3 linked regions of the Homo sapiens genome follow. The protein of the gene in region 3 interacts with the protein of the main gene of each other region in a pairwise test. Each region holds a gene or a part of one and is shown on either strand. Other genes may lie near its edges. The genes, in order: NOD2, ITSN1 and WBP11.

What was found.
Region 1: the proteins of WBP11 (region 3) and NOD2 interact in a two-hybrid assay, tested with the Homo sapiens proteins (one large-scale study listed by BioGRID and IntAct).
Region 2: the proteins of WBP11 (region 3) and ITSN1 interact in a two-hybrid assay, tested with the Homo sapiens proteins (2 studies listed by BioGRID and IntAct).

What each region holds. Positions count from the first base shown.
Region 1 is NC_000016.10:50,713,991-50,717,641, reverse strand, and holds part of NOD2 (nucleotide-binding oligomerization domain-containing protein 2), read right to left. Parts: intron 2,635-3,651; coding exon of another isoform or gene 2,634-2,634; exon of another isoform or gene 2,161-2,633; intron 2,034-2,160; exon of another isoform or gene 1,887-2,033; intron 1,056-1,886; coding exon 972-1,055; intron 752-971; coding exon 668-751; intron 1-667. UniProt on the Homo sapiens protein: Pattern recognition receptor (PRR) that detects bacterial peptidoglycan fragments and other danger signals and plays an important role in gastrointestinal immunity.
Region 2 is NC_000021.9:33,648,921-33,652,571, reverse strand, and holds part of ITSN1 (intersectin-1), read right to left. Parts: intron 1-3,651. UniProt on the Homo sapiens protein: Adapter protein that provides a link between the endocytic membrane traffic and the actin assembly machinery. Acts as a guanine nucleotide exchange factor (GEF) for CDC42, and thereby stimulates actin nucleation mediated by WASL and the ARP2/3 complex.
Region 3 is NC_000012.12:14,786,479-14,790,129, forward strand, and holds part of WBP11 (WW domain-binding protein 11), read right to left. Parts: intron 2,656-3,651; coding exon 2,473-2,655; intron 1,021-2,472; coding exon 587-1,020; 3' UTR 1-586. UniProt on the Homo sapiens protein: Activates pre-mRNA splicing. May inhibit PP1 phosphatase activity.

The sequences.
Region 1 (3,651 bases), on a different chromosome or scaffold from region 3:
CCACAAACCCAGCCCAAGAGGTAAAAGAATAGATGGAAGCAATTCTTTACTTTGTCTTTTTTTACTGCCTCACAAATCACAGGAGGCAAGAATATCTGAGAGAGAGAGAAGGAGAGAGAAGCCAGGCCAACCCAGCGGCCAGCTAGAGGGGCAATTTAAAGGCATCAGGTAGGAGAGAGAGAGACTCCTGTTGAAACTGGGAGACACTGGAGTAGCAGAAATGCAGAACCAGATGGACTGCAAACCTTGCATGCTCTGAGTGGTGAAAGGACCTCCTGGGAGTGTTGCAGCAACTCGCTGCCACAGCTGGGGTGGCAAGTAACTGTGTATGCCTCCCCCACCAGGACGAGCTCAACATGCATCGTGGAACTCAGTAAACCCAGAAAGCTGTGACACTCTTAGACACAGAAAAGGAAAGGGGCCTAGAAAAGCTTTCTTGCCCTACGGGCTAAAGGTCAAAAGACAGGAAGTCCTCAGCAGAGCTAGTCCAGAGTTTACTGGGGAGATCACAGCATTAGAGAACCCCTGCTTAAAATGAGACACTGTCCCTGCATTCAATCAGGAGGTCAGGAGCCAGTGTGGGCAGTGCCAGGCCAAGACCAGATCAGACTGACTCAGGAATGGGGCAAAAAATAGTTTCCAGGGAATAAGGAAAACCTGGGCTCACCTCAATGCCAAGAAGTTCTGCCTGCATGCAAGGAGCTTAGCCATGGAGTGTGCACAGCCGTCAGTCAATTTGTTGTTGAATAGACTGTTCAGTTCCAGAAGAGAGGAGACACAGAAGCAAAGCACATTGGACAGTGAGCACCAAATCCCAGGGTTGCCCTTCCCCTCTGGGCAGGAATCACCTGCACCCCCCATCATGCAAACAGCCCCTGCCCCAGCCCATCACTCACAGCTTCCCAGGCTGCACGACCTGGGGTGAGACCAGGGCACTTGGAGCCCATTGTCCACAGCCCAGGCTGACTTACGCTAACTTCTGCAATTGCTCGCAGTGAAGAGCACATTCAATGAGCTTGCAGATGCCTCGGTCTGAGATATTGTTATCGCGCAAACTAAAGAGACAAAATAAATACATTTGAAAATGGAGCTAGTAAGACAAGAAAAAAATCTACAAATCCCCCAAAAAGACTTTCATTCATCCCTGAAGTGCCAGCATCTGTGCTTCCAGGAAACCCTGCATAGATGGAGCACCCCAAAAAAGTGGAGACCCCACGGTCCCTGGCCAGGGAGGTGACGTGGTGCACTATGATGGGGATGGCCCAGGACGTAGGATCCAGACCCCCTACTAAAGAACCCTGGAATCCTTAGGAAATGACAGAGCTAATTTGAGGCAATGTTTCCATCTCTGCAAAAGGAACATGATAATCACAGCAGCCTCACAAAGGGGATGATGGTGGAAAGGAGCTGATATATGCGAAAGGTGCAGCCTGAACTAGACAGGCTACCCCTGGGGACAATTTACCATCATCTAGGTCAGCAGACAGTAGACCAGCTGGATGAGAGTGGCCAAAACTTCAGAAACAGGCATATAGGCTGTGGTTAGTGAGGCCCTGCTGCCCAGTCCTTAACCCCAATGGCACCACTCCAACAGGCTAGTCCCTGCCGAGCAAGCCCTGTCTGCCACTCCTCTTGGGGCACCATTCCCAAAACTCACCTGATCACAACATCATCTGAAAGCTTCCCTAAAAGACAGATTCTCAGGCCCATACCCTGGAGCTGGCAATCAAGTATCTGCGGGGTGGGGCCCAGGAATCTGTATATTTTAACAACTGTGCACATGATTCTTTATCTTTAGGCAAACTTGGGAGGCCCTGACTGAATGGTTAACAGCTCAGGCTCTGGAGTGCCTCAGCTGGATATTGTGATCCTGATCAGCGACTTACTAGTTATTTGCTGGTCTCTTCATCTATAAAAGAGGGAACAGGCCGGGCACGGTGGCTCACGCCTGTAATCCCAGCACTTTGGGAGGCCGAGGCGGGCGGATCACGAGGTCAGGAGATCGAGACCATCCTGGTTAACACAGTGAAACCCTGTCGCTACCAAAAATACAAAAAAATTAGCCGGGCGTGGTGGCAGGCGCCTGTAGTCCCAGCTACTTGGGAGGCTGAGGCAGGAGAATGGCGTGAACCCGGGAGGCAGAGCTTGCATGAGCCGAGATTGTGCCACTGTACCCCCTGCCTGGGCAACAGAACGAGACTCCGTCTCAAAAAAAAAAAAAGAGGGAACAATAGTATTATCAGCCTCACCAGGCTGTGCACATAAAGCCTTGTGAGCACCCGGTACACAGTAAAAGTCACCTAGAATCATGATCGCTAGCACTGATCACTACCCTTACCACTTCTCAATAATAACACTATTTCATCCTCACAACAAGCCAGTGAAATGGGAACCATTATTATGAGCATTCGTGAGAAAGAAACTGAGGCACAGACAAGCGAAGTGACTTTGCCAAGGTTGTACGGCACATAAAGGCTTTGAGCCTAGGCGGCTTGGCTCCAAACCCCACTCTTAACCATGACATTGTGCAGCTTCTCCCTCAGGGCCTCTTATGGCCACTTCTGTAGTGCAGTGATTTTTCAGACTGCAGGTTGCAGGTCATGCAAATCATTTTGAAGGTCCTGAGCAGCATTTCTAAAATGGAAATAGAACAGAACAGAAGAGAGCAGAGTGTCTCAGAGTTCATAAAGCGAAGTCATTTTGTGAAACTTAGGTTCCATGTTTACATGGTGGTGCGTGCTCTCTCTCTCTCTTTCTCAATCATTGTGGGTAACATTCAAAAAACTTTTAAAGCCATCACTCTAGAGTCTGAGAGAGCCAGAGTCTAAAGAAACCTATATAGGGGCACTGTGTATATAGGGTTTCCTAGAGGCTGAGGATTTCAGTTGGCATGGAAACACTTCAAGTGGGAGAGAGGCAGGTTGGCACTGTGGGAGAGGAGCCTGTGCCCTCCCCCTTCCTCCCTTCCTCTCTTTCTCAATCTCTCTCTCTCTCTCATACACACACACACACACACACACACACACACACACACACACAGTGCACTCACAGCAACCTCATGGTTGCTTCCCCTCCCCTACGGCCTTGGCAGTTTTAGTGTGTGTAAGGTGAAGAGCAGTAAAACTCGCTCAAGGACAGTAATTGCTAATGGAAAACCAAGCTGGTTGCTGCAGACCAGTAGTTCTCCCAGGGCGAGACCACTTGTATCAGAATCACCAGGGGTGTCTGTGAAAAATATAGATTTCCTGGGCCCCACCCCAAACCTACTGAATGGGAATCACTAGAGGCAGGCCCAGGAATCTGCATTGCCACGAGTGCCTTTACACACCACAGTCTGAGCACCATGAGCTAGAACCAGGCCACCCTCACCTTTCTCTGAACACAGAGACAGACCCACAGGTTTCCCAGAGCCCTTCTGCACACCCTGGTAATCACGGGGACATCCCTAATCAAGGATGGATGATCCATTCAAGAATTCCAGAGATGGACTGGCCTATGAGGATCACACAGGCCAGTGATGCCTGGCCTCTTGGGGTAAAAACTGAGTCTACTACCCAGGAAAATGCACATTCTTATTTCTATCAGGGAAATTGCTCCAACAGACAGGTTTCCAAATTCCCACTCAAAGTATCATGATCCTCCCTCCTAGGG
Region 2 (3,651 bases), on a different chromosome or scaffold from region 3:
TGGTCCAAGAATTTTACCTATCTTTATTAAAAAGCAAAAAGACAAAGAATCTATAGGTCCAGCAATAAGTGACTGATTACATATATGACGATGTAGCAAAAAAGGCTGCAAATACAACACATTAAGTGAAAAACACAGGCTACAAAACTGTACGTACCTGAGGCTACAAACTGGCAAGGCAACGAAGACTGAATCCAGCCCTCAGGTATGCTTTGAACCCCAGTGTGTTAACAATAAAAAGTGTGGCCCACATAAAAATCAGAAGATTTCATATTAAACCCACATTCTCCTAAATAACTATAAGGTGTAGTAACACCAGGACGCATCCTCCCAGAACCACAAAGGTCTGGGTTGACTGGCCCTGGACCGTCCTGCCACCTTCAGTGCTCGTGGTCCCTAACAGGCCTTCAACTCTCCCGGGCTAAGTAGCTTCACACCAGGCACCTGCTGGGTAATTTGAGCATGTTGACCTTCACAGGGTATTAACAGTCATTATCACTGGATGGTAAGATCTTGGTAGGCTTTTAGTCTTCTTTCCTTATATATGTTTCCAAAAGTTTTCTTCAATAAACATGTATTCCTTTTGTAGTAGGAAAAAACATGTTATTTTTTAAATTACCAAATCACAACTGTAATATTAATCACTTCATCTACCAAGATCAAAACAACTAAAGATAACAGATAATGACTGTGGTTTAAAACTAATTGAACTAAGAATTAAAGTAAGGTTACGATTACTGCAGGATTTCCCTCCCTTTGATACTAATTAAAACTCCAGATTGGACAGACAACAGCAGCATTTTACAAAACAGATCTTCCTCAAAGAGAACAGCTTCTATAGACAATGCAAAAGCCTGCTATTTTAAGGATTCATTCCCATACATTTAAGATTTCTTTCACTAAAAAAAGGAAACAAAATCTCTCCTATAGAAACCTATATTCATAACCTCAATTAATTTGTTTATAAAGCTAAATAATTCTTGATCTTTGTCTTACACTGCTATTTCATTTGATCAATAGTAATAATTTTATGGGGTTCTCTTTTCCTCAGAGAAACTCCGGAAAGTTTACACAAATTACCATTCATCTCAAACCATTCCTGAGACCTCACAAAGTACACCACATTATCCTCATCACAAAGATAAAGCAGAAGGCTAGGTAGAAACGTCAACATCCATAGACAGCTGGAAGCCGAGTCAATGGAATGTTCCTCTCTATCCATCCTCCAATCCACTCCCACATGATACTCAGAAGGAGATTTTTAAACAAAAGCACATCATGGGACTCCCCTGCTTAAAACTTACATTAACTTCCTACTTCCCAGACATTCAGAGTCAAGTCCCAAGTGGGCCTCTCTCCTTCACTCCCCACCTGTCTCTCTTGCCCCCAGCACTTGCTCTGTACCAGCTCAGAGCCCTCGGGCCTCCAGGCTTGAAGGACCTCAAACACTCCTTGATTTAATAAACCAACAAATAACCCTTGCGTGTCTGCCAGGCAGCAGGCGCTGCTCTAGGGCCTGGGGCTAGCCCCCTGGACAACAGCGATACACTCCCTGCCCTCATGGAGCTAACATCCTGGTAACCCCGCTACCAAGTTTCTTCCTCCTGTAATCATTTAAAGAATATTAAAACAACAATTGTAATAACTGTATCTGAAGGGGTCTAAAAATAAGCAGTGCTACCTATAATACAGATCTATTCTCATTTAATGACTTTAATATTAGCTCTTTATATTAAGTGCAGGAAAGAGGAAAAATAAAGGCAAAGGGAACTACTATTCATTGAAATCTGCTATATACCAAGAATGGCACTCATTTTCTTGTCAATTTTTCAAGGTTTCTCTCATTACTAGCTATATAGCTTTCATTCATCAGTGGCCAAAATGCAATTCTCCAATTCTGCAAGACTGGGGCAGCTGAGTTTCAGATAACTTCAGAAATTGAAAGATAACTTGGTTTTAAAATCTACTATCTTAAGTTCAGAGCGGAAATGAATTGATTTTTGTGAAACACTGGATCCACAATGAACACTCCTATTATAGATAACACACTGGAATGATATATGTGTTTACACAACATTTTGTCTGTGTTAGAACAATAAAACCGGTCAGGAAATTTGCCTTGCAGAGAAGTAATTAACCCTGTACACACACACAGGCAAACAGACACACACACACAAAACGAATGGCTCCAATTCGTTGGAGCTCCAATTCCAATCTTGTTGCAGTGCTTTTATGGTAAGAGTCAGCGTCCTTCTTAACTAGGTTGGTTAAAGCCTGACACTAAAAGCCAGCTGACCTCGTCCACGTCCATGAACTGTATCCATGTCTTGCAAATGCATGCCACCAGACACCAGAACGATTTGCAGACATAATGCAAGGAGGAACACATCAAATGCTCACCAGTGCAACAGAGGAGCAAGAGCATTGTCCTCCTGTATTAAAAAGAGGATGTTTAATTTTAACCACCAAGGGTAAAATTCTGACCACTTGCTGTGTTGCTATGACCTTGTTATTTTCTTTCTTTCTTTTTTTTTTTTTTTTCTGAGACAGAGTCTCGCTCTGTCGCCAAGGCTGGAGTGTAATGGTGCGATGTCAGCTCACTGAAATCTCCACCTCCTGGGTTCAAGCAGGGAATTGAAGCAATTCTCCTGCTTCAGCCTCCCAAGTAGCTGGGATTACACTTGTGCGCCACCACGCCCGCCTAATTTTTGTATTTTTTAGTAGAGATGGGGTTTCACCATGTTGGCCAGGCTGGTCTCAAACTCCTGACCTCATGATCCGCACACCTCGGCCTCTCAAAGTGCTGGGATTACAGGTGTGAGCCACCACGCCCGGCCAGACATTGTTATTTTCACATTCGAATTCACTTGAATTCAAAATTCTGCCACAGCCCTCAGCTCAACTCCTGGCTCCACCACTCAATGAAGGGCCAAACGCACTACCACATGACTCCAGCAGACCCCATACCACACAAAAACAATGACAGGTTTTGGTGACCAACTGAAAACTGAGCTAGGCAGCCAAACTCAGTCCAGAGAGCTGAAGCCAAAACAATTTCACCAATGTTCTCTCTGGGCAGTAAGCTAATAAAGCAAGCTACCTATCATTAATTCTACTAGAAAAACACCGAAAGAGCAGTGATGCATTAAAATAGATTAACTTGCTTAAAATTCACTTTCTTAGAGAGCTACGAACTTTAGGAACAAAACTGGAGTGACATTCTACCATCCCATGTATTAATAAAAATGTTTTGGTTTACTTTTCAGTGATCTCCCAGTGGATGATATCTCTCTACACTGAGGCCTTCACATTCAGGAAGCAAACTTCCTTAGGCCACTTTCTATCTCCAAAGTGGCCAACATTCACATTCAGGAAGTAAACTTCCTTAGGCCACTTTCTATCTCCAAACTCGCCAACATGGAACTACCTGGACACACACACCCAGCTGTCTCCCTCATCACACTTCTGTACAGTCTTGCGTTTCTAAGACAAGTCCACATCACAAGTGAACTGCCTTTTCAAATTTCACTAGTCTTCTCTAGCACTCTAATCCTGTTTTTCATGCAGGGGTACTTTAGGAAAACCACTACAGAGTAAAGGATAACAAGACTACTTTAAGGATGAATGCTGGACAGTTGATGAGGCTAATTT
Region 3 (3,651 bases):
TGGTGTAGAACATTTATTTATTTTTCCCACAAATCACTGAAAGTTTAGGTCAGTGGGAAATAATTTTAATCAAATAATTGTACATATTCTTCCCACATATCCTGCCTTGTATTAGGAAATGACATTGTGATCCATTTCATTACAAGTAAAATATTACAAAATATTTACAGGAAAATATTAAAAATAACTCAAACACAAAAGGCAAGATGAAATAAACTGTTTTTTTTTCTCCAGAAATCTCTACTCCAGTGCCCACAGCACACAAGAGTCAAAACAAATAAGCAACTAAGATCCCCCGATCACAAATTTCCAAAGAACTGGAGGAGGGGAAGAAACAGGGTGAAAATGGTGGTATGAAAGGGAATGGATGTTAGCAGCACTGCTTCAATAACTGATCTATTCTGGATGAAATACCCTTTTTTATGTGCAGTAAATTCTGAACAAGGCTAAATTTTAGGATATTCCTTGAACTGAAATTAGAAAATACCCTGACAATGGAAGCAGCTCTTTCATCTAAGTTTAATAAGAGCCTCTTTCTCCATGGGCCACTGTTGTGAACAGAAGCCTTTTCTGGCATCAAAAGCTGTCACAGTAGCCCTTCCATCTCTTTCATGAAAGCCTCATAGACATCATCCTTAGTTTGTACTGAGACAGGAACAGAAGGACCAGATTTGGGTGCTGCTTTGGCAAGAGGCACAGCAGAATCATCCTCTGACTTTCTTTGGGGAGCAGCAGTAGCCCCTTTATTCTCCCGACGTACTCTCAGTGCAGTGGGCACAAATCGAGTAATCTCTGCCTTGGGATTAGTGATCTGTGGCTTGGCACTGATGGTTGCTGTGGCTTTCTTCTCAATGGTGGCTGCACTTGTATCATCCGCCTTGGGTCGCTGAATCAAGTTGGGTGGGGCACTTAAAACCCCAGGGTTTGGCAAGGGAGCTGGTGGGAACAGCCCAGGGGGGGCAGGTCCAAGGGGAGGCACCAAAGGTGGGCGCATCATGCCAGGACGAGGTGGAGGAATACCTAAATGAATAAAATAGGCAAGATGAATACTGTAAGAACTAATAAAATTTAACTACTATTAAGGACATTTAAATATTGGTTGCCAATTTTTAAATAAATGGATAACAACTTACAGAAAATAAGCTGAATTCATATTGGTTGCTATTTGAAACTCAGGAATATTTTATTATAAAACAGTATTTACCTTCAGCCTATATTCCTGTACTTACAGTATTATGTTCTCTTCTTCTCTAAATAACATCCTACTTTAAAATATAAAGGGACATCAACTGGTTTCAAATTACTATCTCAAATCTCACATCCCAAGGTTCTATTCCAGCTGCATAGTGCAGGTATTAGTAAGGACAAGGTCAGGAGACTGATCCCCATGCATTATATTCCATACCATTTCCCCTGCACAAAAAGGTCAATGGGCAGGAAATAAAATTTTAACCCTGGTCATCAAATGCATACGGAGGCCGAGCATGGTGGCTCACACTTGTAATCCCAGCACTTTGGGAGGCTGAGGCGGGTGGATCATTTGAGGTCAGGAGCTCGAGACCAGCCTGATGACCAACATGATGAAACCCTGTCTCTACTAAAAATACAAAATTAGCTGGGCGTGGTGGTGCACGCCTGTAATCCCAGCTACTTGGGAGGCTGAGGCAGGAGAATTGCTTGAACCCAGGAGGCGGAGGTTGCAGTGAGCTCAGATCGCGCCATTGCACTCCAGCCTGGGCAAGAAGAATGAAACTCCGTCTCAAAGAAAAAAACAATGCACATGGAGTAAGAGAATGCAACTAATCACAATCTGTCATCATTACTGGAAAAGAACTCATGTCCTATGGACAGTTCAGACATACACAATATTCATATACCAAGAACTGCAGATTTCAGTTCTTCAAATACCACTTTTAAATGAAATATTAAGTACATTTTATCAAATCTAAGATCCTATTGATTACAAACTCATAATTATTCTGTGTACCACTGAGAGAGAGAGAGGAAAAAAAGCCCCAGCTGGGGCACTGAAAAGCAGATATTCACATGAAACTGGGACATTTCAGTGTTGTAAACTAGAAATATACCTACCACATAAAACAAGCCCACAAGAAAATCTGCATGTCTAACCTTGACATTAGGTAGAGGTAAGGGAAAAAAACACTCTAATTTTAAACTTTAAGTTGGTACTCATGCAGATGCATGAAACGGCTTCGTAACTACAACTAAAACCAAAAAATTATCAAATAGAGAATTTAATCCCATGTTCTCTGGCTACAAGTTCCTCAAGTGAACCAAGTGCAAATACCCACTGGAAGAACTGTACTTCAAGCCAGGTCAACGGCAACTTAAAAACCACCACTGACTGTAAGATGACCTCAGATTTCAGAATACTGAAATGTGACCATATGTCTTAGAGCAAATTAAATAAACAGCAGGCTAAGTTTTTATTATAGAAATTGAAAGCATCACCTGGAGGTGCAGGGGGAGGTAGCCTTGGTGGGGGTCCACGAGGAGGGGGACCAGGAGGCAGACCTGGAGGTGGACCTGGGGGAGGGCCAGGGGGTCGGCCTGGTGGTGGTCCTGGAGGTAAAAGTCGGGGTAAGGGCCCTCGGAGTCCTGGCATTCCAGGTGGTCTCAGGAATGGAGGAGCTCCTGAAAAGAGAAAAATGATAAATTAATGTCACACAAATGTACACTAAGTAATAATTATGGCTTAAAAGTAACTCAAATATGGTTTGACTTTAACCTGAAATCAGATTAACTTCAAGAAGTTAATGAAACATACATGGAAACAGAATTCATTCAATAAATATCTGAGTACAGCCGGGCATGGTGGCTCATGCCTGTAATCCCAGCACTTTGGGAGGCTGAAGTGGGTGGATCACAAGGTCAGGAGTTCAAGACCATCCTGGCCAAGATGGTGAAACCCCATCTCTACTAAAAATACATAAAAATTAGCCGGGCATGGTGGCAGACACCTGTAATCCCCGCTACTTGGGAGGCTGAGGCAGGAGAATGGTGTGAACCCGGGAGGCGGAGCTTGTAGTGAGCTGAGATTGCGCCATTGCACTCCAGCCTGGGTGACAGAACAAGACTCCGTCTTAAAAAAAAAAATATATCTGAGCACCAGAAAAATGGTACTGGATTTGTTGTGGATCTTTTCACTTTATTTCCCAACACTGACAAAAAGCATATTCAATCACAGCTCCGCAATGTTGGAAATATACAAAGGTGATAAGAATTCTTAAATGGTTCCAGTATAAGCTGAAAATGGAATATAAAACACAATGCTTTAAGGACCCCTTGAAACTCATGAATATATAGACAAAGACCACTAAGAATGACATAAAATAGGTAACTTTGCTTTGCACCAATCGGAAAATGATTAGCTCAACTGAAGAAAACTTAGTAGGCTGACAATAGGATGAAGGACTAAAATCACAAATAGCTGAAAAGTTCTCTGTTGCTTCATTTCATAAATAATCTTTTTATACTTTCAAACTGAACACTTAATAAACAGACTAATCACCTTTGCCTCTAAAAAAGAACTACAACTAAAAAACTATGGAGATTACACTGACATTCAACATTCCTAACCTAAGAACACAAGACATTATTAACTGTGTCTTACTCCCACCTGCTGCCAAT